Linked DNA regions of Homo sapiens: all the other regions are linked to region 7. Evidence: fine-mapped expression QTL. A gene starts in region 7. Each other region holds a variant in brackets. All regions are shown on one strand. Distances are between the middles of the regions.

Region 1 (4,000 bases), 70 kb before region 7:
CACAATTCTTTATACTTGTATAACCTGAAAATGCAAACCAATCCTATAAAACAAGTCAGAGTATTTCCTAGTTTATTTAGACATTCAGAGTTGCACCTGGCACCACTCAAAAGCATGAGCCCATAGCTGACCATAAGGATAATCCTGGCAGAGAAATTCTCAGGTTCCTGGGAGGAAATGGCACACACGATTGCTGTGTTGAGCCTCGCAGTATGATTTCTTCCTCGCGCTGCAGGAAAATAACCCTAGGAGAAAGTAGTAAACAGCTATTTTTAAGTCCGGCCTAGTTTACTTGAACTCATTTCTTCCTTTGGCACCCCTCATTGGCAAGGACAAGGCCTCCCATTAAGATGTTATTTACTGGATGGGAGATCTCTAAAGCATCTCCAGACAGTGTATCTACAGCTCAGGTATATTTTTTTCTTGGAGCAAAAACACAGCTGAACTGTAAATTTAAGCTGAAGCCTGACAGTGCCAGCAAAATCCCTTTGCTCTAGAATTCTGCCACGCTGGAATCTGATGGGATTCCTTTGGAGAGCCATCTCCCAAATTTGTCCCTACAGTTGAGTACCTAATTTCAAAGCCACACTTTAGCCTTGATAAATTCGATTTACAGAAAAAAAAAACCACAATTTTAAAAATCATCCACAGCCCCACTACTCCTTTCTACACATGAGAACAGTAAAAATCAGAATGGATGGATCTCCTGTGTTCACTTAGTCTCATTTTGAGATGTCCTTAATTTGCTTCCTCTTTTCTAAAAACTGAGCTGTGAAAATAAAGACTGGCTGTGAGAACCTCAAATGGTCCTGCAGAAAGCAGGGCTGACCAGGCAAGGTTGAGGGTGACTGAACTCAGTCATCTGATGCCTGGGGGCAGTGAACAGACATTCCCATCGAAAGTTCAGGATGCCCGCAGTACGAGAGGGCCTCCCTGCATAAAGCTCCCATCCCCTACTGTGACTTAGGAAATCATAAACCCCAAGAGCACAGACAGGGCTAACACAGGGTATGAACATCTGTTCTGGACTTCTGATGAACCACAGGCTCAATCAGAATAGCCAAGTTACTGAAAGCATGACCGACTTTGAGGAAAAGTGAGACACCTAGGTTCTATAAGTCTGGAACACTACATGGACACAAGAGTCCAGCACGGGGGCATAAGAAAAAAAATTGGTTGGCCAGGTATGGTGGCTCATGCCTGCAATCACAGCATTTGGGAAGCCGAGGCAGGTGCATCACCTGAGGTCAGGACATCGAGACCAGCCTGGCCAAGACGGCAAAACACTGTCTCTACTAAAAATACAAAAATTAGCCGGGCGTGGTGGTGCACACCTGTAATCCCAGCTACTCAGGAGGCTGAGACATGAGAATCACTTGAACCCGGGAGGTGGAGGTTGCAGTGAGCTGAGATTGTACCACTGCACTCCAGCCTGGGCGACAGGGCAAGACTCTGTCTCGAAAAAAAAAAAAAAAAAAAAAAAATTGGTAAATTGGTTGAGAGCTCAGCCATGCTTGAGCCCTTCCAAGTTTAAACCCAAATCAGCTGGTCTTCCCACAGCACCAAGTCTAGAAAGG[C/T]CCAGGCAATGCTCTGCCCCACCACCCTCCACCCATTTCTGTGAACCAGCAGTGAGTGTGTTAAGGATGCTTGTCTGGAGATGAGCAACTTGGTACACATGCGTACATATGACCCAGACTCAGCACTCCCCAGGACACCCAGTTCTCACTAAGAAACATCCAATGACCTTTCAAACCTCCTGATTCTCCCAACCTCATAGTGCCATAACCTCAAGGACGATGGGTGTCTGAAGACAGGGGCCAATCCCTTTTGGTCATGGTTGATACAGAGCTGCCACGATGACTTTCCAGCATAGGAAGGAGCATCTCTAATGGTAGGGCTGCTGTGACCCCAAATTCTGAGTTTTGAACCTTAGGTTCCTAGAGATGTTACCACCTTATTTTCATGTGACAGTTGCACCATAGGATCTAATGGATAATATATATTAAAGTTCACTAAGCGTCATTGTGTCTATTAACTCATATTAAAATACATTAAGAGCAGATTATGTCTATTTTGAGTACCTCATACATAACTTGCAGTGTTCTAAGGGCTTTCCATGTATTCTTATTTAATCCTCATCATGATTCTGAGGTAGGTACCATAATTAGTCCCATTTTACAGATGGAGAAACTGAGACACAGAGAGGTGAAGTCATGCTGAACTCATGAACGATGATAGAGCCCCGATCTCCTCATGCCAGTGCCCTTTCCAACTCTAGTGCACTCTCCACTGTCCCATCCAAGTAGCTAAGTTCTGGAGAAGAAACTGCGGGCTGGAAATGCTTAGCTGTGTGCTCAAGAGCTCTCCTGCAAATCTGTTTTCTTTTAAGCATAACCATGCAGACATATGGAGGGGGACTTCACATAATTGTTTTTCTCTATAAAGACAACTCAATATATTTTTCTGTAGCTTGATTTTTTATTTCTTCACAATATATCACTAGCATCCCTCACACTGTGGACATGAATCTGCTTCTGTGTTTTCTGATGCTGTGGAAAGCAGGACCATTTAGTCTGAATGTCTCCGCCTCCCTGTGCTAAATTAGAGACATGGAGTCGGTAGAGTGCGAAGGAGGTGTGACTCTTTCATCCTGAAAGGATGCTTAAGTCTCTTATGATAACAATTAAATGGTAAGGAAAAATCCTCAACACCCTGTGGTGTCTTCTATTTTCTGCTCTCTTCTCCTTTTGAATTGAGCCGCTTAAAGGAATGGTCTTAACTGGGTATCTCAGTATTCTCTTGGCTTCTCAGAGCCTAAACTCTCTTAAATGCCTTTGCTGACTTATTTCCCTTTGCCCACTCCTTGAACATGGCCTGCCAGGGCCTTCTCCATTTGTACTTTTGCCCCAGACTGGCTCTCAAAGTGTGGTCCCAGACCAGCAACATCAACGTCACCTGGAAGCTTGTTAGAATGCAAATTCTATGGCTCCACTCCAGATCTACTGACTCAGGAACTCTGGGGGTGGGGCCTGGGGAGCTCCGATTTAACAACCTTCCAGGTGATTCTGATGCAGCTAAAGTTTGAGAACCATTGCCTTAGACAAACCCACCCCTAGCAGTCACCTCCTCCCATTGACTGGAAATTCCCACATCTTCATCTTTAACCTCGACTTCTCTTCAAGCTACATACCTACACATGCAAGTATGCTCTCTGGCCATCTCTGCCTTGCCACTCCACAGTCTCCTATACTGAATGCTGCCCAAAAAGGACTTACTTATCATCTCCCCGAGGATCTGTTCTTTCTCCCTCATTCCCAGCAACTCATGCCAACACCATCTCCCCACCTACCCAAGACAGAAACCAGGAAGTCATCCTAGACTCCTGCTTTTCCCTCATCCAGTCAGCCACCAGGTCAGGTTGATTCTACCTTCTCTTTTTTTTTAAGATGGAGTTTCGCTCTTGTCGGTCAGGCTGGAGTGCAGTGGTGCGATCTCAGCTCACTGAAAACCTCTACCTTCCGGTTTCAAGTGATTCTCTTGCCTCAGCCTCCCGAGTAGCTGGGATTACAGGCATCCACAACCATGCCCAGCTAATTTTTGTATTTTTAGTAGAGACGGGATTTCACCATGTTGGCCAGGCTGGTCTCAAACTCCTGTCCTCATGATCCACCTACCTCGGCCTCCCAAAGTGCTGGGATTACAGGCATCCACAACCATGCCCAGCTAATTTTTGTATTTTTAGTAGAGACGGGATTTCACCATGTTGGCCAGGCTGGTCTCAAACTCCTGTCCTCGTGATCCACCTACCTCGGCCTCCCAAAGTGTTGGGATTACAGGCGTGAGACACTGTGCCTGGCATCTTCTCTCCATTTTTATGACCTTAATTCAGATTCTCAGCTGGCCTAAGTCAGCTTCCAATGAGGCACCCAAGGACCTAATGTAGTACCCGTCTCTTCCAACCCTCACACTATTGCCAAGATAATCCCTCTAAAACATGAGT
Region 2 (4,000 bases), 120 kb after region 7:
AAAAAATCTTTATTACAGCCCATAAGAGAGGTGCACATTATCCCCATTTTACAGATGATGAAATTGAGGCCCAAAGAGCATAAATGAATTGCCTAAGTCATGCTGTCCATCTACGGTTAGCAATTCAAACCCAGATCTGAGTGTCTCCAAAGCCTGCACTTGCTGCTAATTCATATTTGCCCTATTGTAGTGTAGAGTCTTTTATTGAAAATATTTATTGAGCACCCATTAATTTCAGACACCATGCTGGGTGCAAGGGACACAAGGGAATGAACGCAGACAAGTCCCCATCCTCATGGAGCTTGGAGACTGGTAAACAGAGACTGACGCTGTTTCAACAAGCACAGAAAAAAATGTAACTGTGCTGCTGCGCACGGTGGCTCACGCCTGTAATCCCAGCACTTTGGGAGGCCAAGGCGGGCAGATCACGAGGTCAGGAGTTCAAGACCAGCCTGACCAACATGGTAAAACACCGTCTCTGCTAAAAATACAAAAATTAGCCGGGCGTGGTGGCGCGTGCCTGTAATCCCAGCTCCTCAGGAGGCTGAGGACAGAGACTCACTTGAAACTGGGAGGCAGAGGTTGCGGTGAGCTGAAATCACACCACTGCACTCCAGCCTCGGCAAAAGAGCAAAACTCTGCCTAAAAAAAATATATATATATATAGAAATATATATATATAGAAATATATATATAGAAATATATATATAGAAATATATGTAGAAATATATATATAAATATATATATAGAAATATACACATAGAAATATATATAGAAATATATATATTATATATATAGAAATATATATAATATATATAGAAATATATATAGAAATATATATATAGAAATATATATATAGAAATATATACATAGAAATATATATATAGAAATATATACATAGAAATATATATAGAGAGAAATATATATAGAGAGAAATATATATAGAGAGAAATATATATAGAGAGAAATATATATAGAGAGAAATATATATATAAAGAAAGCCTAGCCAGGGCGGAGCTCTGAGGCTTAGTGGGCCTTACCCGGGGAGGAGGCTGGGTACCTTCCCGGCAGCAGTAAGGCCCCTGGGGCAAAGCTCACTCATAGCAGGTGGCATGGCCAACAATAGGCACAGATTTTATCTAGAACCAACACATCCAGAGAGGAGAGAAAAGAAGGAAGAGGAGACAGGTTAAGGGAAGGAGAGAAGAGGAGACAGTGCAAGAGAAATGGAAAGGATCAGGGAGACTAAGGGAGGAGAAAAAGAGGAGGGAGGGAAGGTGGAGAAAATGGCGTGGCAGGGGCAAGAGGCAAGGAAGGGACGGGGTGGGCAAAAACAGCACTAATTTGGTGCGTACCAGGTGTCAGGCACTGTTTCAAATACCTTACCCACAGTATCCCTTTTAACCCTTCTGCTCTACGGCCCTGAGTCCCAGCTGGATGGACACCCGCCTGCAGGAGGTCCTAACCCCCAGCTTGGCAATGCCCTCCCCGCCTCCAGCCCCAGCTAACCCTTTGCCATTCACTCTGTCCACAGCCTTCTCACCCCTTTCTCTCTAAAAAGGTGTAGTATTTAATTAGGCTGGGGAGGTACTACTTCAGCCAAGGAATGGACGCCTGTTTTTAAATAAAAATAAAAATTTCAGAACCCTCTAAATTTATTATGCCAAGGGGGAAGTTAGGGCTTGGAGACTGGGTTATGTATAACTTGCATGCTTGCAATTCTGCTTCACTCTCTTCCCCACTGTTCTTGACTTCCTCATTGTAAATGACTAGGAGAGACCAGATCTTCCCGCTTCTAATTGCTGATCTTTGTTGTACATTAACTGCCTCCTTCATTGTCCTGTACCTAACTCGCACCAGATAGCGTCAGTCCAAGACCCAATGATGGTTACATCTGCTGTGTGGAATGTTAAATATACCTCCCCCACCACTCAGAAAGACCACCTTGACTAATCAGATCATTGTAACTATGCATTAAGCCTTACATAGAAACATGCTGAAATCCT[A/G]TTAAATTTCCCTGAACTTTTTCTATATGAACACTGTCAAATTTCTTGGAATCTGTTCTTTCTGGGCAGGCTCACTTGTTTTTGTTTGTTTGTTTGTTTTTTGTTTTTTTTGAGACAGAGTCTCACTCTGTCGCCAGGCTGGAGTACAGTGGTGCGATCTTGACTCACTGCAACCTCCGTCTCCTGGGTTCAAGCGATTCTCCTGCCTCAGGCTCCCCAGTAGCTGGGACTACAGGCACGCGCCACCACACCCAACTAAATTTTGTATTTTTAGTAGAGACAGGGTTTCACCATGTTGGCTGGCATGGTCTTGATCTCTTTGTGATCCGCCTGCCTCGGCCTCCCAAAGTGCTGGGATTACAGTTGTGAGCCACTGTGTCCGGCCGGCAGGCTCACTTTTAACCTTCGCACTTAATTAAACTCTCTTTAAACTAGATTCTGACCTTTTTGATTATTTTAGGTTGACACTATCAAGTTGGGCCTAAAAACCTGATGAATTTCTTTGAGGCCAGAAAGGACCCTACAGTCCATCCTTCTTTTTACTATGGAGGAAGCGGAGGTCCAGGAAGAATACACCATCAGCTAGATTCTCCACATTCCATGCCCCCATCTCTTCCAGAGCTGACCCGGGCTGGTTCCATGGGCAAAAGCGTGGTCCTTTGTGGTTTAAATAACATGTACTTTTTCACTCATAAGAGCAATACATGAAAAAAATTATGAATAATCTCACCACCCAGGGAGAACCACTATTAACATTTTGCGTAATTCTTTGCAGTCAAAGGGCTTTTAAAGAACAACCAAATGCCAGAGTATTAGATGCAAATGTTAAAAATGAAGTATTTTAAAAATAGATTCAACTTGGCGAATGTTATTTGATCTCTACATAGGGAAGCTTTCTAAGCTTAAAATCAAAGAAAGAAACCACAAAGGAAAAAAGATCAATATGAACAACTTCACTTCAAAGAGGAAGGAGACTGAAAAGGCTTTCTATCAAAATTCAAACTGTAGGGGAAAATGCTTATGATAGAATGTTACATTTAACAAAAAGGATGTAAAATTGTACATACCATATGATTGCAAGTGTGCAATTAATAAATAATACCACCTCAGATCCACTTAGATGGCTACTATCAAAAACACAGAAAATAATAAGTGTTGGTAAGGATGCAGAGAAATCAGGACCCTTGTATACTGTTTGTAGATTTGTAAAATACTGCAGCCACTGTGGAAAACCAAATGGCAGTCCCTCAAAGAATTAAAAATAGAACTAACATATGATCAAGCAATTCTGTTTCTGGGTATATACCCCAAAGAATTGAAAGCAGGGTCTCAAAGAGGTATTTGTACACCCATGTTCATAGCAACACTATTCACAATTGCCAAAAGGTGGAAGCAACCCAAGTGTCCATCAACTGATGTATGGATAAGCAAAAGGTGGTCTACACATGCAATGGGATATTATCCAGCCTTAAAAAGGAAATTCTGACATACGTTACAACATGGATGAACCTTGAAGACATTATGCTAACTGAAATAAGCCAGACACAGAAGGATAAATAATGTATAATTCTACTTATATGAGGTACTTAGAGTAGTCAAATTCATAGAGACAGAAAGTAGAAGCGTGGTTTCCAGGGACTGGGGAAAGAGTGGATTGAGGAACTGTCGTTTAATGAATATAGAGTTTCAGATTTGCAAGATGAAAAGAATTCTGGAGATCTAATTCTTTTCAATATTTTCATTGTTTTCAATACGAACAATGTGAACATTCTTAACCCTACTAAACCGTATGCTTAAAAATGGTTAAGGTGGTAAATTTTATGTTATGTGTATTTTGTCACAATTAAAAAAACATACACACTTAAAAAGGATGGCAAGAAAACACACAAGAACAAGCATAAGACCCAGCCTATGGTCAGATCCTATTAAAAGTGCAGTTCGTGGACCAGCAGTGAATATATCCCTGAGAGCGTGTTAGAAATGCTGAACCTCAG
Region 3 (4,000 bases), 48 kb after region 7:
TAAGGAACATCAGTTTAAGGGAATGCCAAATTATTAGCTTGCCCAAGATGTCTGCATCTCATATTCTGGTCCTAGAGGATTACCTGATTTTAAGAGACCTGTAAGTCAGGTGAGAGGATGTAGTTGGAAGAAAAACACAGTTTCTCTACTAACCATTTAGCCTACAGACCACATAGGACACATTCAGAGAATCAGGTCTGAGGAGGCCTCGGCCCACCCAACAAGAAAGCGGAAATGACCACAAAAAGGCCAACTTTTCTCCTGTTTTTTTTCCTTTGTTTGAGACTCTTACTTCTGACTGTTGGGAAAAGCTGAGTGGTGGTTTCACTTGGCTGAGACCTTATTAGGGAATTAAGGTGCCAGAGGAACGGAGACACTTTGTGGGTGGACAGGTTGGCATGGTGCTGACAAGGGGTCCTGTGTGTCCCAGGGCATACCAGCCCCTGGCTCATCTGAATGCCCTCTCAGTGGTGAGGAGTTGAGTGGCCATCTGAGGTGGTTGATGGTGACAGGTCCACAGCCTGGGAGTGGAGAGGGCTGGGTTCTCACTGGGTTCTGGGAAGGGAGACCACACCATCACCATTTATCATCCAAACTGTGGCACTTTGAAAAAGCACTAAATACTTCTATGTGTAGTTCCTAAACCTAAGGACATTCTACATTGATAGCAGTGCCGTTATCTAATCTACAGTCTTCAGATTTCACACGGCCTGCTGATGTACTTTTTTTCCATTCAGGATATAATCTTGTACCATGTGTTGCATTTAGTTGTCGTTTCTCTTTAGTGTCCTTTAATCTAGAATGGTTCCTTGGTCTTTCTTGTCTCTCATGACCTTGATATGTTTTGTGGCTCAACTGTTGTGTGGAATGTCCCTCAGTTGGGGTTTGTCTGATATTTCTTAGTGATTAGATTCAGTTTATATATTTCTGGCAACAATATCACAAAAGTGCTGTTGTGTCCCTCTTGGCACATTTTTTTTTTTTTTTTTTGAGACAGAGTCTTACTCTGTTGCCCAGGCTAGAGTGCAGCGGCGCGATCCTTGCTCACTGCAAACTCCACCTCCCGGGTTCAAGCAATTCTCCTGCTTCAACCTCCTGAGTAGCTGGGATTACAGGCGCACGCCACCACGGCCAGCTAATTTTGTATTTTTAGTAAAGATGGGGTTTTACCATGTTAGCCAGGCTGGTCTTGAACTCCCGACCTCATGTGATCTGCCTGCCTTGGCCCCCCAAAGTGCTGGGATTACAGACGTGAGCCACTGTTCCTGCCCCTTCTCAGCACAAATTTTTTCTTTCTCTCTTTTTTTTTTTTTAGAAACTGATGTTTATTTTCCATCAGCCTTATTTCCATGTTGCTTAAGAGCCTGTGCAAGAACAGCTTAAGACCATTCAGTGGTTGCTCCTACCCATTCAGTGGCCTGAGCAGTGGGAGCTGTAGACCAGTCTTCCGTGGCATGCTGAGAGCTCTAGTCTTCAGTAGGGATCTGCTGGATAGGCACAGAGGGCACCTGCACACCTTCAGACCAGTCTGCAACCTCAGGCTGAGTAGCAGTGAACTCAGGAGCTGGAGCAGTCCATTCGCCCTGAAGTTCCTTCTTGGTCACAGCCTTTTCAGCAGCAGCCTGCTCTTCTTTTTCAATCTCTTCAGGATCTCTGTAGAAGCAGAGATCAGGCATGACCTCCTATGGGTGTTCACGGGAAATGGTGCCACGCATGCGCAGAACTTCCCGAGCCAGCATCCACCACATCAGACCCACTGAGTGAGCTCCCTTGTTGTTGCATGGGATGGCAATGTCCACATAGCACAGAGGAGAATCTGTGTTACAGAGCAATGGTAGGTAGGTTAACATAAGATGTCTCCGGGAGAGGCTGGTGGTCAGCTCTGGGGTCAGTAAACACAAGAAGCCATGGCTCCCGGAAAGCTGCCTGGATCTGATTGGTGAAGGTTCCAGGGGTGAAGCGGTCAGCAATTGGAGTGGTTCCAGCAGCAGCAAACTTCAGCACAGCCCTCTGGCCAGTATTCCTGGAGGATATGACACTGACATCAGCAGGGTTTTCAATGGCAACAATGGCACGAGCTGCCAGCAGAAGCTTCTCCCAGGTCCTCTTCAGATTTAGGATGTAGATGCCATCACTTCCTTTTATAGACGTACTGTTCCATCTGG[A/G]AGTCAAGATTAGTGCCACCTAAGTGGGTTCCTGCTGCAAGGAACTTAAGGACATCCTCCTCCTTCATTTGTAGGACATCAAGGGCTCCGGACATTGTGAAAGTTTCCGTTTAAGTTACGACTGGAATCCAGAACAATGCTGTATGCACCCCTCTGTGGGTAGCGTGGAAAGTTCTGAGCAAATCTTAACAGGAGGCACATGATGTTCATTGGTACCATCTGTGAAGATATTAATCTTCATTACTGGATTAAGCATCTGCCAGATTTCTCTACTGCAAAGTTACTATTTTTTTCCTTCATAATTCCAACAATTTTTTAGGGAAATACTTTGAAAGCATGCATATATCAAACATGTATTTTGAGAGGAAAAAAGGGTGCTACTGATACTCAAACTGTGACAACAGAAGCAAACATATTATCCTGGGGAAACTAGGACATATGGTCATCCCAGTTCTGAATGACTTTTGTTATTTCCTGCTGTAATGTCCAGGTTGCTCCCAGCCACATTTTAAGGGTCACATTCATGGCGAAACCATTGCTGAACCCCCTCCTCTTTGCCTCCATTTCACCCTGTGAGATGACCATCATAGATTGTTATGTCTCTCTGACTTCCTGTCTCTTTCTGTCTCAGACTGACAGCTCCTTGAAGGCAAGAACCTTGTCATATCTTTATCTCCTAGGGCCTTACATGGGGCTAGTAAGGGAGAAGCATTTCCTAAAAGTTTGAATTCATACTGACCTCTGAACATTGGTTTTCTCATCTTTTGCAAAGAGGGATAATGAACTTTGCTGAATTGCCTCTAAGGATCAACTGTGATGAGATTTTACAAGTGAAAGCACTTTATAACCTACAAAGTGCCAGAGGACTCTGAGGCACCACTGTTTGTTTGGAGCCAAGAACGACTCCAACACCAGTGAGCACTGCTGGGTCTCCTCTCACACTCGGCAGGTGGCCACCCAGACTCTGATCTGAAATCAGCTTGTTCACTCCTTCATCCTGTGGCTGCCTTGTTGGTCTTAGTAGTTTCAGGGCTGAGCACAGAACACAGCCAGGGGTACTCGATAAGTGTTTTGAAAGAATACCCCCATGAATGAATGCATCTAGCCCCTTCCCCTCCTCTTAGTGTCCAAACCTCCCAAAAGAAATTTAAGAACTAGCACTGTACCTGACACAGTATTGTGTAAGCATTCAAGATGAATGCTATGTAGAGAATTACAGCAAGTAAAGAGATTGAATTAGCAAACAAATAACTACTCACAAAGAAAGCCCCAGACTCAGATGGCTTCACTCGGTGAATTCTATCAAACATTTGAAAAAGAATGAATACCAATTTTTTCACAAACTCTTTCAAAAAATAGAAGAGGAGGGAACATTTCCCAACTCATTCTATGATGCCAGTATTATCCCTGATACCAGAGACAACTCAATAAAAGAAAACTCCAGATCAATGTCCCTTATAAATGTAGTCAAAAACCTTTAACAAAATACCAGTGAAATAGAAGAGTTACACACCCTGACCAAGTGGGACTTATCCCAGGAATACAAGGTTGGCAATATTTGAAAATAAATCATGTAATATACCACATGAATGGAAAAAAGGAAAAAAGCCACATGGTCATCTCAGTAGACACAGGAAAAGCATTTGATAAAATTGAACATACTTTCATGACAAAAACACTCCACTAACCAGGACTAGAAGGGAACTTCTTAAACCTGATAAAGGGCATCTACAAAAAGAAAACCGATAGGTAATATCATATATAATGGTGGAAGACAAATACTTTTTTCCTAAAATCAGGAATAAGATAAGAGTGTCTGTGCTCATCACTTCTAC
Region 4 (4,000 bases), 26 kb after region 7:
GAAGACACGAGGCAGAGGAAAACAAAGGAGGAGGTAAGTATCACCCAAGGCCTGGGAGTGTTCCACAAACAGCAATGATTTCAAAATTTTCTTATGGAACAGGATCTGCTACTCCAAAACCAAAGTTCGGAAAATGAAATCTCCCTTGCAGTCAACAAGTATTAAGATCTTTCAGTATTTATAGTGATATCACATGCTAAAAAGAAAACTATTTATAGTGCCTGACTTGCGTGTGGCTGTAGAATAATATGTTTTAATCTTGAAAACATAAAAATGATAGTTTATAGAATTATAATAACTAATCCTTTCTGAAAAGGTCTAGAATCCTTAGGGAAATGCATGTTAAGATTCAGTTTTAATATCATGTAGTTCACTTTTATTTAGTAGAGTAGAAGAAATAGTAGTTTTGATTCATAAATTTATTCCTCTGCTGAAATTATTCCCAAAACATAAATATCAGAACCAATGAAAAGGGAATAAGATTTCCCTCTGATAACAAAGGATATTTAGGAAAACTGTCACTGGATAATTTGAGTCTTACAGCTGTTTAAGGAAATGTCTACCGTGAGCACTTTTTACCACCAAATTGTGAAAGCAGTAAGAACTCATTGTCTAACAATAAAGAAATCCAAGAAATGAAAATTGCTTCTTTTCTGTTCTTCTCTCCAGAAGTAACAATAATTTTATTTATTTATTTATTTATTTATTTATTTATTTATTTATTTATTGAGATGGAGTCTTGCTCACTCGCCAGGCTGGAGTGCAGTGATGTGATCTCAGCTTACCAAAAACTCCACCTCCCGGATTCAAGTGATTATCCTGTCTCAGCCTCCCGAGTAGCTGGGATTACAGGCACCTGCCACCACGCCCAGCTAATTTTTGTATTTTTGGTAGAGACGGGGTTTCACCATGTTGGCCAGGCTGGTCTTGAACTCGTGACCTCAGGTGATCCACCCACCTCGGCCTCCCAAAGTGCTGGGATTACAGGCGTGAGCCACTGTGCCCAGGCAATAATTTTATGTTTTAATTTAAGCAAGATTAAAAAAGGTTTTTGGCCAGGCGTGGTGGCTCATGCCTGTATTCCCACCACTTTGGGAGGCCAAGGAGGCTTGAGGCCAGGAGTTTGAGACCAGCCTGGGCAACATAGTGAAATCCCATTTCTACAAAAAATAAAAAATTAGCTGGGCATGGCAATGTGTGCCTGTAATCCTAGCTACTTGGGAGGCTGAGGTAGGAGCATCACCTGAGCCCAGGAGACTACAGTGAGCCATGATTGGACCACTGCACTCCAGCTTGGGTGACGAAGTGAGACACTGTCTAAAAAAAAACAAAACAAAACAAGAAAAAAACCCAAAACAATCCAGGCATGGTGGCTTATGCCTGTAATCCCAGCACTTTGGGAGGCGAAGATAGGCGGATGGCTTGAGCCTAGGAGTTCGAGGGCAGCCCTGGGCAATATGGCGAAACTCTATCTCTATCAAAAATAAAAATAAAATAAGCTGGATGTGGTGGCATGTACCTGTAATCCCAACTACTTGGGAGGCTGAGGTGGGAGGATCGCTTGAGCCTGGAAGGTCGAGGCTGCAGTGACTCTAGCTGGGGTGATAGAGAGAGACCCTGTCTCAAAAAAAAAATTTTTTTTAAGTTAGTATGCTTTGTACACACACACACACAGACACACACACACACACACACACACA[A/CACACACAA]ACACATGCATACATCAATGCAAAGATACTTTTTCTGGAGGTCAGTGTCACTTTACTTGTTAATGGAGTATAAATCAGTTACCAGTTATAATCCTAAAATCCAATGATCCAAAAGAGCCTTTCTTTATTTTTAATTTTAAAGAAAAGAAATTGCAAACACAGTACAAAGAGGTGCTTGGAACCCTGAAGCCAGCTTCCCCCGATGGTTACATCTGGTATAACCATAGTATACTATCCAAGCCAGGAAAGTTTTTTTTTTTTTTTCTCACTTCTTTTTGAAACATCAAGTCATCATTTTGGGAAAATCCTGCTGTAAATATGACAAGAGACACTTTGAATTCTTTATACCCACATAAAATTTTTCTACAAGGTTTCTATATAGTAGAAGGACCTATTAACAACTTTAATTAGTGAAAGTAACAAGATATCAGGTCACAGGCCTGGGTAGATGTCAACAACATAACATGTAATGGGCTTTGACGGACAATATTGTTTTAAATTCTACACCTTCCTAGTTTGAATAAACTGAATTTAGAGTAAAAAATGGTATTGATGGCCCAAACACATTTATACTTAGTGGTAATGAGACTGAAAATAAATTTTTCTTAAAGTACTAGGTACTTCATAGTACATCATATATACTTTGGAGCATTGCTCCAAACAGCAATCAGCAGCATCTGTAACAATCATAAGAACGATGGCATCAGTATATTTTAGTTGGAACTTAAAAACTTGCCTTCAAGGCCTCACCCACATTAGTTCCTCAAAAGCTGTGTGTTTTATTTTGGCACCTTCATTTGATACCTCATTCCCTTCACTCTTGAGGTTGCATTTAGCAAAATCAAAGAATGCAAATAACACAGTAATAAGAGTATTCCCAAAATGCAGTTTCATCATTATTAAGCAGGTGGTTTGGGGCTTGGCAAACATAATGACAGTGTATTTCATAAGCTAGAACTATGAAGCAGAGCACAATAGCAAGTCAAAAGAATCTGTAAGATAAAAAAATAATTTATTTAATTAAGAAATACTTACTGAAGGTCACCCGGTGGGCAGCACAGTCCTGGGCACTGGGTATACAATGCTAGATTAGACTTTTTCCCCCAACAGTTTGACATCTCAAAAGTAGAGAGGTAGCTAATGGTGTCTTAAAAACACTATTGGGCCAGGCGTGGTGGCTTACACCTGTAATCCCAGCACTTTGGGAGGCCGAGGCGGGTGGATCCCAAGGTCAGGAGTTTGAGACCAGCCTGGCCAAAATGGTGAAATCCCGTCTCTACTAAAAATACAAAAATGTAACTGGGCATGGTGGCACACGCCTATAATCCCAACTACTCCGGAGGCTGAGGCAGGAGAATCACTTGAACCTGGGAGGCAGAAGTTGCAATGAGCCGAGACCACACCACTGCACTCCAGCCTGGGGCACAGAGTGAGACTCCATCTCAAAAAAAAAAAAAAAAAAAAAATTTAAAGCACTGTCGTCCAGATAGTAGTTGTCACTGCCTACACGTTTGTGAATTTAGTTATAATTCCTTTAATGTTTTGGTCAGACTTAGTCCATTTTGTATGCTATAACAGAATACATAAGACTGGGTAATTTATAATGAACAGAAGTTTAGGCCCAGCATGGTGGCCCATCCCTGTAATCTCAGCACTTTGGGAGGCCAAGGCAGGTGGATCACTTGAGGTTAGGAAATCGAGACCAGCCTGGACAACATGGCAAAACCCCGTCTCTACTAAAAATATAAAAATTAGCTCAGCGTGGTGGCGGGCACCTGTAATCCCAGCTACTCAGGAAGCTGAGGCAGGAGAATCACTTCAACCTGGGAGGAGGAGGCTGCAGTGAGCTGAGATCATGCCCCTACACTCCAGCCTGGGCAACAGAGGGAGACTCCATTTCAAAAACTAAATAAAATGAAAAATAAAAAGTTTATCATTTCTTGGTTCTGGAAGCTGGGAAGTTCAAAATCAAGGGGCCAGCATCTAGCGAGGGCCTTCTTGCTGCATCATCTCATGGTGGAAGGGCAAATAGAAGGTGAGAAGGAGAGAGTGGATAGAACTCATAGCCTCAAGCCCTTTTAGAATTGGCTTTAATCCATTCTTGAGAGCAGAGTCCTCATGACCTAAGCACTTCACATTAGGCCTCACCTCCCAATACTGTTGCATTGGGGATTACGTTTTCAACACATATTTTTTGGGAAGACACACTCAAATTATATCAGTCAACAAATCATTTAAAAAGCATTTAAAGAAGGAATGTGAGTCCTGGTTATTGTCTAAAACCCATCTATTGACCCAGA
Region 5 (4,000 bases), 37 kb before region 7:
TCCTTTGAGTTTGGACAACACAACACAGTTCCCGCAAACTCTCATCACCCTCAAATGCAGTCCCACTCCCTGGAGAATAAGCCAGATGTGGTGGCACACACCTGTAATACCAGCTACTTGGGAGGTTGAGGCAGGAGGATCACCTGAGCCCAGGAGTTTGAGTCTAGCCTGGGTAACATAGTGAGACTCTGTCTCAACAAAAAAAGAAAAAAAAAAGGAAAATAAAAAAAGAAAGAAAGACAAAGGGAGAATCCTTGGAAAATGGACAGACAAAACCTCTAAGTCAGCAGCAGCAACCACCGTGGGGCCTTACTTGCCCACAGCCTCACCATGTAGGGCCTCCCTGGACACCAGTAGCCTTTATCAGGATTAAACTCTGTTCCTTTCTCTTCTCCCTTTCTCTCCTTTTCAAGACTAAATAATTTCTCAGGGCTGGGAGTGTTGGAGCATACCTGTAGCTCCAGCTACGTGGAAGGCTGAGGTGGGAGGATTACTTGAGCCCAGGAGCTCAAGACTGGCCTGGGCAACATGGTGAGACCCCAATCTCTACAAAAAAAATAGTAACTTAGCCGGGGATGGTGGGATGTGCCTGTAGTCCCAGCTTATTGGGAGGTCGAGGCAAGAGGATTCCTTGAGCCAAGTTCAAGGATGCAGGGCACTATGATTGTGCCGCTGCACTCTAGCCTGGGTGACAGAGTGAGACCCCATCTCAAAAAAAAAAAATTTCTCAGGAGACAGGGCTAGATATTAGAATCATGAAGCAAGAAAACAGCAGGTGAAAAAGGCATCCCTCAGTTTGATATGGAAGGTCTGGCAGCCTCACCAAACAAGTTCATCCAGACAAACAGCTTCATGAAGGAGGAGTGGGAGGTGGCATAAAGGAAGACACAGAAGGTGCAACATCCAAAGCTCATTTTGTGGGAACCATTGACGACACGGGTTACAAGAAAACAACCAAAGTGGCATCAGCATTGCCTGGGGCCCCAGCTAATACTCCCCTCCAAAGAACAAAGATCTTGTGTGGCGCAATTTCAGCTGAGCCCAGCTTTCTCCTCTGGATTCAGATAAAGCACCCATGCAAAGGTCCATGGCTAGCCACAGGCAATTACTCTAATTGCCAGCCAAGCAGTGCCAGCATGAAGGTATTTCTCATACAAGTTCAAACCACTTGCTATCCTCTCAAGTCAAAATAAACATCAAGGAAATATCCACGGCATTGCTGTTGCACAATGAGAATAAAAACAATCATGTTACAGGAAAAGAAGTTCCTGTTTATAAGGCCCACTGCCCTCTAGGGAGCTGCTTCTGGTTTGGTGAGAAGTCTTTTCTCTGCACCCCCTCACTGAATTAAGATACACAGTTTGGAGGTAGGAGCTGGAGAGAGTTTCCCTGAACAACAGAAGGAGAAGGATTTGGAGAGGAGGAGGACGAGTAACCCAGGAGGGAAGGGAGACAAAACAGAAGGGGAGAAGAATGGAATAGGAGGTCGGTCTGCATTCTCTAAAAGCCTCTGTACCCGTCATTGGTCAACATCTAAAACCAACCCACCACTGGGACCAGTGAGCTTCTTACGGACACCAGAGATGGATGACAGCAAAGGATAAAGGAGGTGGGTGAGATGGCAGAAAAGGGCAAGAGAATACGGGCTCTTTGGGAATTAACTGAAGTACATACGAGTGGTAACTCACACCTGTGATCCCAGACTTTGGGAGGCTGAGTCAGGCAGATCACTTGAGGCCAGGAGTTTAAGACCAGCCTGGCCAACATAGCGAAACCCCATCTCTCCTAAAAATACAAAAATTAGCCAGGCATGGTGATGCACACCTGTAATCCCAGTTACTCTGGAGGCTGAGGCGTGAGAATTGCTTGAGCCCTGGAGGTGGAGGTTGCAGTGAGCTGTGGTCACACTATCACACTCCAGCCTGGGTGACACAGCAAGACTCTGTCCCCAAAAAAAAAAAAAAAAAAAAAA[G/AG]GAAGTACATGGGGGGCCTTTGTGCTCCTCACACAGATTCTGAGCGATTTCACCAATACCTTTGAGGGACAGAGCGGCCCCCATGCCATTTGGATACTATCATCTCCCCCAGAACAAGGGTTATGAGTTCTTACAATGCGCCAGTGCTAAACAATTTACATGAATTTGCATTTGATTCTTTCAATAATCTTAAGAAGTGGGTATTATTAGACATATTTTACAGATGCTTTAACATGTTAAATATTTCACTTAAGATCACAGAGCTAATAGCAGCAGGGCCAAGACTCAAAGCCAAGTCTGTTTGTCTCCAAATTCTGTGTCATTCTGCTCAGAAAAAGATCACATTTAGCTTGCAGAAAAGCAGCACTTTGGGAGGCCAAGATGGGTAGACTGCTTGAGCTCAGGAGTTCGAGACCAGCCTGAGTAACATGGCAAAACCCTGTCTCCACAAAAAAAAAAACCAAACACCCAAGTTAGCCAGGTGTGGTGGTGCACACCTGTAGTCCCAGCTACTTGGGAGGCTGAGGTGGGAGGACTGCTTGAGCCTTGGGAGGTTGAGGCTGCAGTGAGCCATGATTGCACCACTGCATTCAAGCCAGGGCGACTGAGTGAGACTCTGTCTTTTAAAAAAGAAAAGTGATTATAGTTTTATTCACTAATCACAATATACACTGACATCCCAAGCCCCTTGATGTATGGTACTAAGAAGGACAAACATCACTTCAGTGGGATTTCTGCCAACAACACATAACCTGAATCTACTCATGAGGAAACACCACACACACATAATTTGCAGAGCATTCCCCAAACAGCTCACTTGGATTCTTCAAAATTGTCAAGGTCATGAAAGACAAAGACTGAGTATTCTAGACTAAAGGACACTAAAGAAGACATGATGACTATATGTAATATGTGATCTTGTGCTCTATCTTGGACAGGGAAAAAGAATATAAGGAACATTATTAGGACAATTTGGTAAAATTTGAGAATGATAGTTACACTGTGGTTATGCAGGAGAATACTTTTGTCCTTTAGAGATGCATGCTGGAATAGCTAGGGTATTTAGGAGTGTGATGTCTGCAACCTACTCTCAATTGGTTCCATAAAATATGAAGCAGACAGACAGGAAGGAGGAAGGATGAAGCAGGATATTTACATTTCAGAAATTACAGTGAAAGTATGAGGAAGGTCACTATACTGTCCTTACAACTTTTCTTAGCGCCTTGAACTTTTTTAAAATAAAAAATTAAAGGAATTCTGACTTCAATTTCTAGCACTGTGACAGACTGGGTATCCTCCCAAATGAAACAAGTATGGGTAAAACATGAAATTTTTTTTTTTTTTTGAGACAGGGTCACCCAGGCTGGAGTGCAGTGGCATGATCACTACTCACTGCAGCCTTAACCTCCTGGGCTCAAGCAATCCTCCCACTTCAGCTTCCCAAGTAGCTGGGACCGCAGGCATGCACCACCATGCCTGGCTAATTTCTGTAATTTTTGTAGAGACCGGGTCTTGCCATGTTGCCCAGGCTGGTCTCAAACTCCTAGGCTCAAGTGATTCGCCTATCTCAGCCTCCCAAAGTGTTGGGATTACAGATGTGAGCCACCGTGCCCAGCTAAAACATTTTTAAACATGTTGCTGAGCTGGCATGAAAAGAAAATATCCCAAGAAGCCAAAAATTAAATAAAACAAGAATCCTGGGAGTCATCAAATGCCAAAACCAGTTTCCACCCTGAGAGTTTGTTAAACCTTGAGGACTCTTAAGCTTCCAGCTTTTTTTAAAACCACTTCAAGATATAATGCATACATCATAAAATTCACCGTTTAAAGTGTAGAATTCAGTAATTTTTAGACTATTCAAAGAGGTATGTAACTACCACAACTATCCGATTTCAGAACATTTTTATCATCCCCAAAAGAAACTCCATATCTATCAGCAATAGCTCTCCATTCCTCCCTCTCCCAGCACGCACTAACGCACTCACCTACTTGCTGTTTCTATGCATGTGCCTATTCTGGACATTTCCC
Region 6 (4,000 bases), 64 kb before region 7:
AAGCTGAAAGAATTCTGCCTCATTTATCTTGTGTGTGCCACCAGGGCAAACACCAGGCATTTTAATAACCTCATCTGGACCTTCGGTAATCATTGCAGGCTACTAACTCCAGACAAATATTTGCCTTGGAGGTTTCTCTATGGAGAGACAGAAGTAAACTAAGCTTCTTTTGTTCATATAGATTGAGTATGACAATCTAGAAAATACAGAGCACTCACATCATTCATTTCTTGTAACTATACAAATAAAGGAGCAATGGAATTGATTCTACAAAGATCTGCTGGAATACATTTCCTTTATACTTTTCCTTTCCCCCATGCCATCTCCAACAACAAATCAAAGTACAGCTGAGAAGAACATCAGTGGATGTTACAATCAGAGAGGCCAAGGCTGTTGGGGGAAAATTCATTCTCCTTGTCTCAGAATAGGACACCCATTTTCAGCCCCCTGCCAACACCCAAACTTTTACATGAGAATAGGGTCCCTTTTATAAGACCTGGCAGATGCTACTGTAACTAAGTGACCAAACTTAGCAACACTGATTTTGGTACAACCAATTATCATGCGATCACAACCAGATACATGCCAGCACCACCTGGGCTGTATTCTTACCCAAATGGTCTAACAGGCTGAGGATTTTTCTAGATTAAAGGTGACTAAAGAAACATGGCAACTAAAAGAAATCTGTCGATCCTTGACTGGATCCTCAAACAAAAGGCTGAAGTAAAGGACATTCTTGGGACAAAGTAGAAAATTTGAATATGGACTGCATCACATATTAGTGAATTGATGCTAAATTCCTTGAGTGTGATGAAGGTATTACAATTAATTTAAATAATTTAATAGTTATTTAATGATTTTTGGTAAATACATACTGAAATACCTAGGGAATAAATGTCAGGCCTGCAACTTCCCAGTGGTTTAACAACAACCACAACAAAAATAAGATCACACACATTCACACAGCGAGAGAAACCAGATGTAAAAAAATGTGAGCTGGCAAATGTAAGTGAGGAGTCTACAAAATTTAAGCGAAGGAGTCTATATTGTTCTACTTTCCTGCAGATTTGAAATTTTTCAAAATTACAGTTGGGAGGGGGAGGGGGGAAGCTCGGTTACCATCAATGTGTAAACAAGCCAGAATGTTTCAGAAATGAAACATACGGGAAGAAAGTATGAGAACCAAACAGTATTTCCTGCCTCAAATTTGAAGATAAGCGACCCAATTTACTTTTAAGTGTTTGGAGGCATAAGATAAAAACAAAAACGAAACACCTGAATCTAAACCAACACATTTGACCCTGTCACCACATTAAGAACGAGCTGAACTCAGACATTTTGATGCATCAGAGTTCTCAAAAATACTAGAAATATCTCACTGATATGATAATGGCCTTGAAGATTTATGCAGATACGAAATGAATTCCAAGCAAAGCATTAAAGTAATCTTCATAACTTGTTAACACAACTGCTCTCAAGAGAATGTTGAGAAATCTTGCCAGGAAAGGCCTACAGTTCCCAGCAAGCAGTAACTATCAGCAACTTAAGAAGACAAAGATCTTTTTTAAAAACCTTACTTATTTGCAACCTACATTTGTTTTGGATCCTAGACGCCTGCAATTTGGACACTCAATTTAGAGTTTATGTAATAGTGATCAAAAAGGATTTGCTGGAAGGGAGAAAGCTGTGCAATCGGGCATGTGATTGTAAGAGCTGGGGGTCAAAGAGACGAAATTGGTTTAATAAAACAAAATGGGGCCACCTGGGTATTTAAGTGTGAGACCAGGTCTCTCTCCAAAGACAACAAAGTTCTACATCTAATGCCCCAGGGTTCCTTTGTTCAAATTCAGCCAATCTCTTCATGCCATGGGTCTTAAAAGATCCTGAAGTTACAGACTTCAGGTACTTGGTGTGTATGCGCACAGGTACTTCATACACTTCGTGTGTGTGCGCACAGGTTTCCAAGGAGAGGGACCTTAGCTTTCTTCTTTTCTCAACAGATCCCTCACCTCCTCAAATAGGTGAAAAACCCATGCCTTGTGAAATTTGCTCCAATTTCTTCTCTGGGCTTGAAAAACCCAGGGAAATCCTAGCACTCACAAGTCCACTTCTAAATTCAAAAGGGCCTCTGATTCCTTCTCTTCTACTTCCATCTGTCTCACCACTGTTCCAGCTTTGTCAGGGGGCCAATCGCCTTTTGGGAGCCTTGTTTCATCTAATCCTCCCTTAGGCAAGGAAATCTTTGCTCTCAGACTTAAAACTAACTTTGAACTGGAAAGTGACCTAAGATGTCGGGAACAACCATAAACTGAACAGCATACAGAGGCAGAAAATTGCATTTTGTACTTTTCTATCCAATGCTGTGCTACTTGTTCC[A/G]ATAAAGAATTAACTTCAAGGTAGTTATTTTGTGGGGGTATTTTGTTTTGTTTCTGAGACAAGGTCTTTGTCACCCAGGCTAGAGTGCAGTGGTGCAATCATAGCTCACGGCATCTCCAATTCCTGGGCTCAAGCAGTCCTCCCACCTTAGCCCCCACCTCCAAGTAGTTATGACACGTGCCACATTTCAGCTAATTAAATTTTTTTTTTTTTGTAGAGACAGGAATTGCCCATGTTGGTCTCCTGCCTTGGCCCCCCAAAGCGTTGGGATTACAGGCATGAGCCACCATGTCTGGCCTATGCTATTCTTATTAAGAAAAAAAAAAAAGTCAGCAATCAGTGATCACTCTTAATTCCACCGAAAGGAATTTGGGTCTATTCTATTTTTGTTGCAAAAATTTTAGCACCAGAAAGAATATTAATGACTATGAATTCAAGCTTTTCATTTGACATATGCAAAAACAAAAGTACTGTGATTTACCCAATGTCACATGGCTGGTTAGCCAGACTCGAAATGGAAACCTCTTGACACTCAGTCCAATGTTCTCTGACATCACCTGCCTTTTCACACCAATGCCCTCTGAAAAATACTATTTTTCTTTCTTTTTTTTTTTTTGTTTCATATCAATGATAAGAACTGCTGGATGGAAACCAAAATCATTCATGGAAAACTGTATGAGATTTCAGGAATCCCCAGTGCAATGTCACCGATGCCGGGATGAGTCATACTGCAGCTTGATCAAGTCCAGGTAGACAGAGGACCCCTCCCAAGGGCTGTGTCTCCCCTATCCCTCTTCATCCACCACTCTCCCTTGACCACTTTCTGCACCACTGGCAGGAGGGAAAGATAAGGTGGAATCCTTTTGCCCATATATTGAATGATTATTTAATTGCCCTGTTTCTAGTTTTAAAAACAACAGGATAGAAATTTATATATTGTTATTTAAAATGTCTTATGTTGCTTTATATATATATATACAGCTGTCAAAGTATAATTTTTTTTTGAAAAGGTCAGCTCTTGACTCATATAGAGTATGCATATGCTAAAGATTCTGTAACTTGATGAGTTTGTCAACTTAAGCAGAATGACAAAGCTGGCTCAAAGGTGGATGGCACAGAAACCTAAGTAGGGCAAAAAATCTGTGGAAAGATGAATGCCGGGATAAGGCTGGAAACTTAGAAACAAACCGGGTTAATGTCCTACCTGGCATATAGCAGTACCCCTGATGCTCCTTTTCTGCCATAAGAAATCCTTCCCATCTTAACTGGACAAAAATCATTTGCAATTTATTAATCTCAGCCATTTGTTTTTATAAGACCTGCAAGTGAAGGATGATTTTTATATTTTTAAATGGTTGAAAAAAATTAAAAGATTTTTTTTTTTTTTTGAGATGGAGTTTCACTCTTGTTGCCCAGGCTAGAATGCAATGGCAAAATCTCGGCTCACCACAACCTCCGCCTCCCAGGTTCAAGCAATTCTCCTGCCTCAGCCTCCCAAGTAAATGGGATTACAGGCATGTGCCACCACGCCCAGCTAATTTTTTGTATTTTTAGTAGAGATGGGGTTTCTCCATGTTGGTCAGGCTGGTCTTGAACTCCCGACCTCAGGTGATCCACCCACCTC
Region 7 (4,000 bases):
AAACGCTTAATGAAATCTAAAAGGATACATGCTAACATGTCAACAGTGATTATTTCTAGTAATGGGATTGTGGGCCACTTACATTTCTTTCACTTTTGTATTTCCTGAAAAAGCGCAGTACACAGAGCATATCGATAATAAATCAGAAAAAAACCCAAAGGCGTTATACTTCATGCCTGGCCCAAATCCACCCCAAGGTAGAAGGCCCATCTCTGTCATTTTAGCTTTTGTTTGCGCTGCTGAAGCAGAGGAGCCTGCCAACTCCTTCATTTGCACAGCAAATATTTGTTGAACTCCTAAAAGCTAGGCCCTGCAAGGCGATTCCAATACCTTCAGCTTTTGAGTCTCCTGAAGTCCTCAATACTCGCTGAGGGAACCAGCTGGGAGAGGAGCTAAGCCAACACTTCTCATACCTTATGTGCATTATGACCACCAGGGGCTTCATAGAGCAGGTCCGGGTGGTATCTGAGACTGGGGGAGCAAGCAAGCTACTTGAGGTACACAAGATTTACTTCAGGTTTCTCAAAGGAACCGCCCAGGTCTTCAGTCACTTCTGCACCATGATGGTGTGCCCATTCTCTAACTCCCACATAGGCTCATTTTCAATTCCCAAATATTTAACAAAAGTCTGTGAGAGATGACAGAGGGGCACTGCTGGGGCAGCTGGAAGCTGTCTCAACTGCTTGCAGTTATGAGCACGGCCCTGCAGAAAGGCAGGCCTGGGTTTGAATCCATGCTTCACCATCCACCGGTGTGATTTACGTCCCCTCTCTAGGCCTTCACAGGGGAGGGTGGTCGTTGGATTACACGAGGGTATGAGGACATCTAAAGGGCTTGACAAGATCCTGGTACACGAAGAAGACTCAAACAGTGACCACCTCTAACTGCTGACAGGACTCCAGTCCTTTCTCAGCTATGAAGGACTGGCTGGGACTTCTGGGAAGATCACGTGAGTTTTCAGCCTCTATGCCCTCCAATGAAGAGAAGAACGCCCATGCCCTGCCTCCTTCCCAGGAATGTTCTGAGCCTAAACCAGGATGTGCACAGCACCATGCAAAAGACCTCTTTGGTCCTAAAATAGGTTATGGCACTCAGATTTTATTCAGTAAAATTTTCCTGACTCACCTCAATGTTACTACCAGGGAGATAATTAGGAAAAGAAAGAAGCCCTTTCCTCTTCCCCTGATCTTAGGAAGCTTTATTTTCAGGGAGGAGGCCATCCACGTGGAGATCAGGTGAGAAAGGCACCAGGTGTCTCTGACACTCAACACAAACTCAATAGCCACTAAGCCAAGCTTCCTGCTCCCAGGATCTGCCGCCGCCACCGAGAGGACCCAACAAGCTGAATTTCTCCCACAGCAAGACATCCTGAGGATCACAACCCTTTCTTCCCAGGACAGCCCGAGTTTCCTGGACCTTGTTTAGAGTCTTTCACTTTGGGAAGAAGGCGAGGCTGAGCAAAAACGGTTCCCTAAAGCCCGCGGGAAGATCTGAGCAGGCTCCATCCCGAGAAGCACGGCGGAAGCACGCGCCGGGGTCCAGCTGAGCCCCCCGCCACCCCCGGCCCGTCGGCACTCACGATCTCGGCCACGATGAGGAAGCCGGGCAGGGTGCGGAGGAACTCCCGGTCGTAGGCGAAGCTGCTGCTGCTGGTGGAGAAGTTCTCTGCGAAGGAGCTGGCGGTGGTGGTGACTGTGTGCGAGCGGGCGCGCTGCGGCTCCTCCATCGTCGAGCCACTGCCGGGCTGGCGCGTCCCCAGGGACCCCGGCGGGTCTGGGGCTGGACGCGCGGCCCTGCGCCCTGGGGACACAGGCGCGGGGGAGGGGAGCGCGGCCCGCGCGGGGCAGGAGGTGCGAGGGGGGCGCCCGCCGGGGGCTGTCCAGGCGCGGCGGGTGTCCCTCTAGTGCGCGGTGCCCCTAGCGCCTCGGTGCGCGGGCTCCCGAGCTGCGCTGGGGCCCTAGAGGAAGAGGAGAGCGAGCGAGGGGAGGCTGCCGGGCAGCCGGGGAAGGCGGTGGAGGCCCGGAGGAGGGGAGGGGGCGGGGAGAGGGGCGGGCGGGAGGCGGGCAGGAGAGGGACCGCCCCGCGGAGGCGCCGCGGACGCCCGCCCTCTTCACCTGTTGCCCGACTCCCAGCGGCGGAGAAGGCGCCGCGTCGCACCCAGGGTGGCTGGGTTGGCAGCCTGGCGGGCGGCGCGGAGGAGAGGGCGCAGGGGTCCTTCTGGCCGTCTTCCGCTCCCCCTCCCGGCCTTTACTTCTGTCAGGCCCCGCCTGGCCCAGGCCCGCAGCCTGTTTCCTTCCACCTGGGCGGGTCGGGGGCTGCGGGCATTGGGGCCCCTTAAGGAAACCCAGGCCTCCAGGGACTCCGCCGCTCCAGGACTCGGCGCGGAGGGAATGACTGAGCGACGACCGAGGCAGGGGGTGATGTGGTACCTCGAATGCTGTGGAAATGGCAGGAATGATGACCCGGCCGGACCTTAGACCCGAGATCGATGAGAGGCCGCCAGCACTGCCCGGGAGACGGCCCGCTCTTCTCCCCCTCCTGCTGCGGCCGCCGCCAGAGCCCGGTGTTATTTCCTGCCCCTCCTGTCGGGAACAATTTGAGGAACCAACTTAATCGCTTGGCTTTGAGGGCGCGACGCTTCCAGGCGCTCTCCGCGGCTCTGTCCCGCGGACCGGTGGAGCCTGGGTGACGGCGCCTGGGCCGGAGGAGGGGAGATGTTTGGGGTCCCTGGCCAGGATGAATCAGCGTAACCGTCCCGTCACCCTCGGGGAAAAAAAATGTTTCAAGAAGGCTTGAAGGGTGTGATTTGTGTAATGTTAACTTTAGGACAAATGAGCTGTGCTTTCCTGGCATGGGAAGGGGATGGGGGTCCTCATTTAGTGAGGCAGTTTGTAACAGGGTCAGGGAAGAACTGAGCTCGGCTGCGTGCGTTTATCGGCTGTATGACCCAGAGCGAGTGGCTCTAGTTTTTGGACCTCAGTAATGCCATCTCTAAAATGCAGGCTTTGACAGATGGACCTCTGAACAAAAAGATTATCTTCCGCTTGGTCCCTCCTTCTATTTTGTGAAAGGGTAGCAAGAAACATTTTATCTGGAAGCCACCAAAAGAAAAGGAAATAATCTTTGGCTATAAATCGAGGGTATCTTTGATTCACAGTGAAGGCATTTCTGCTGATCTGTTCCAAGACAGGTTAAAAACGAGATCAGAAGGGACATTTTCTTCACAGTGTCTTATCAAGTGTGCTGAGAAGAAAGCAAAAACGACAATCTAATAAAATAAAACAAGGAATTAGTGTCTTTTAAGTCTAGGGCCTAGCCAGGAAGACCTCCAGGAGTAAAAGTTAAGGCTTCAAAAGCATGGCAAAGATGTAGATTTGGAGAGATTCCATCCATGTGCATTTGGTAAGCACCTTGGGCTGGTGGGTAAATTCTTAAAATTTAAAATATAGCACTTCTCCCTGGAGCAGTAGTTCTCAAAGTGGTCCTTGGACCAACAGCAGGTAAGTTCCCTGGGAACTTATCAAAAATGCAAGGTCTCAAGCCCCACCCCCAGACCCTCTGAATCAGAAACTCTGAGGGTGGAGCCAGGAAGCTGTGTTTGAACAAGCCCTCCAAAAGACACTGATGCATGCTGAAGTTAGCTGCTGCTTTAGAGAAACTGTTAATGAGTTTGGGGAAATAAGAGATACATACATGAAATGGCTGGAGGAGACTCAAGCATTATGCATGACATTTAGTGAACGTAAAAGACGGAGTCTAGACAACTTTATTTCCATAATATTAACAAAGGACAATCCTCTCTTAAAATTCCTGGGGTCAGATGAATTTCTAAATTCAGATTTTGTTTTTCAATTTAGAAAGGTAAAATGTGCATGTACCATATATTACATAATACCTTTGGTAAGGTCTGGGGTGACACTCTAATATACTAATTTTCTGCAAGGGAAATCATGAATGACATAAGTGTATGCTTGGATTATCTACTGCAATGTAATAAATG

What was found. PIP is the estimated chance that this variant, and not a neighbour inherited with it, causes the effect. A credible set is the group of variants that fine-mapping cannot tell apart.
Region 1: its variant is the best candidate, but not a certain one, in a credible set for the expression of CMTM8 in whole blood (TOPMed, PIP 0.56).
Region 2: its variant is the best candidate, but not a certain one, in a credible set for the expression of CMTM8 in whole blood (TOPMed, PIP 0.59).
Region 3: its variant is the best candidate, but not a certain one, in a credible set for the expression of CMTM8 in lung (GTEx, PIP 0.76).
Region 4: its variant is the best candidate, but not a certain one, in a credible set for the expression of CMTM8 in whole blood (INTERVAL, PIP 0.80).
Region 5: its variant is the best candidate, but not a certain one, in a credible set for the expression of CMTM8 in monocytes (Fairfax 2014, PIP 0.71).
Region 6: its variant is the best candidate, but not a certain one, in a credible set for the expression of CMTM8 in whole blood (GTEx, PIP 0.56).

The regions. Positions count from the first base shown.
Region 1 is chr3:32,306,785-32,310,784 of GRCh38, reverse strand. The region is part of intron 1 of CMTM8 (CKLF like MARVEL transmembrane domain containing 8); the gene reads right to left. Among named protein-coding and RNA genes, the nearest start is that of CMTM8, 70 kb to the right of the region's middle. The variant C/T (reference allele first, on the strand shown) is at 1,578.
Region 2 is chr3:32,118,434-32,122,433 of GRCh38, reverse strand. All of the region lies in intron 1 of GPD1L (glycerol-3-phosphate dehydrogenase 1 like), which reads right to left. Among named protein-coding and RNA genes, the nearest start is that of GPD1L, 14 kb to the right of the region's middle. The variant A/G (reference allele first, on the strand shown) is at 2,007.
Region 3 is chr3:32,189,007-32,193,006 of GRCh38, reverse strand. It overlaps the pseudogene RPSAP11. Among named protein-coding and RNA genes, the nearest start is that of CMTM8, 48 kb to the left of the region's middle. The variant A/G (reference allele first, on the strand shown) is at 2,166.
Region 4 is chr3:32,211,031-32,215,030 of GRCh38, reverse strand. No RefSeq gene overlaps it. Among named protein-coding and RNA genes, the nearest start is that of CMTM8, 26 kb to the left of the region's middle. The variant A/CACACACAA (reference allele first, on the strand shown) is at 1,701.
Region 5 is chr3:32,273,617-32,277,616 of GRCh38, reverse strand. All of the region lies in intron 1 of CMTM8 (CKLF like MARVEL transmembrane domain containing 8), which reads right to left. Among named protein-coding and RNA genes, the nearest start is that of CMTM8, 37 kb to the right of the region's middle. The variant G/AG (reference allele first, on the strand shown) is at 1,973.
Region 6 is chr3:32,300,725-32,304,724 of GRCh38, reverse strand. All of the region lies in intron 1 of CMTM8 (CKLF like MARVEL transmembrane domain containing 8), which reads right to left. Among named protein-coding and RNA genes, the nearest start is that of CMTM8, 64 kb to the right of the region's middle. The variant A/G (reference allele first, on the strand shown) is at 2,377.
Region 7 is chr3:32,236,699-32,240,698 of GRCh38, reverse strand. It overlaps CMTM8 (CKLF like MARVEL transmembrane domain containing 8), which reads right to left and starts at 2,019. Exons shown (of 4, transcript NM_178868.5): 1 at 1,580-2,019. The coding sequence starts at 1,726. RefSeq lists a silencer at 2,006-2,215.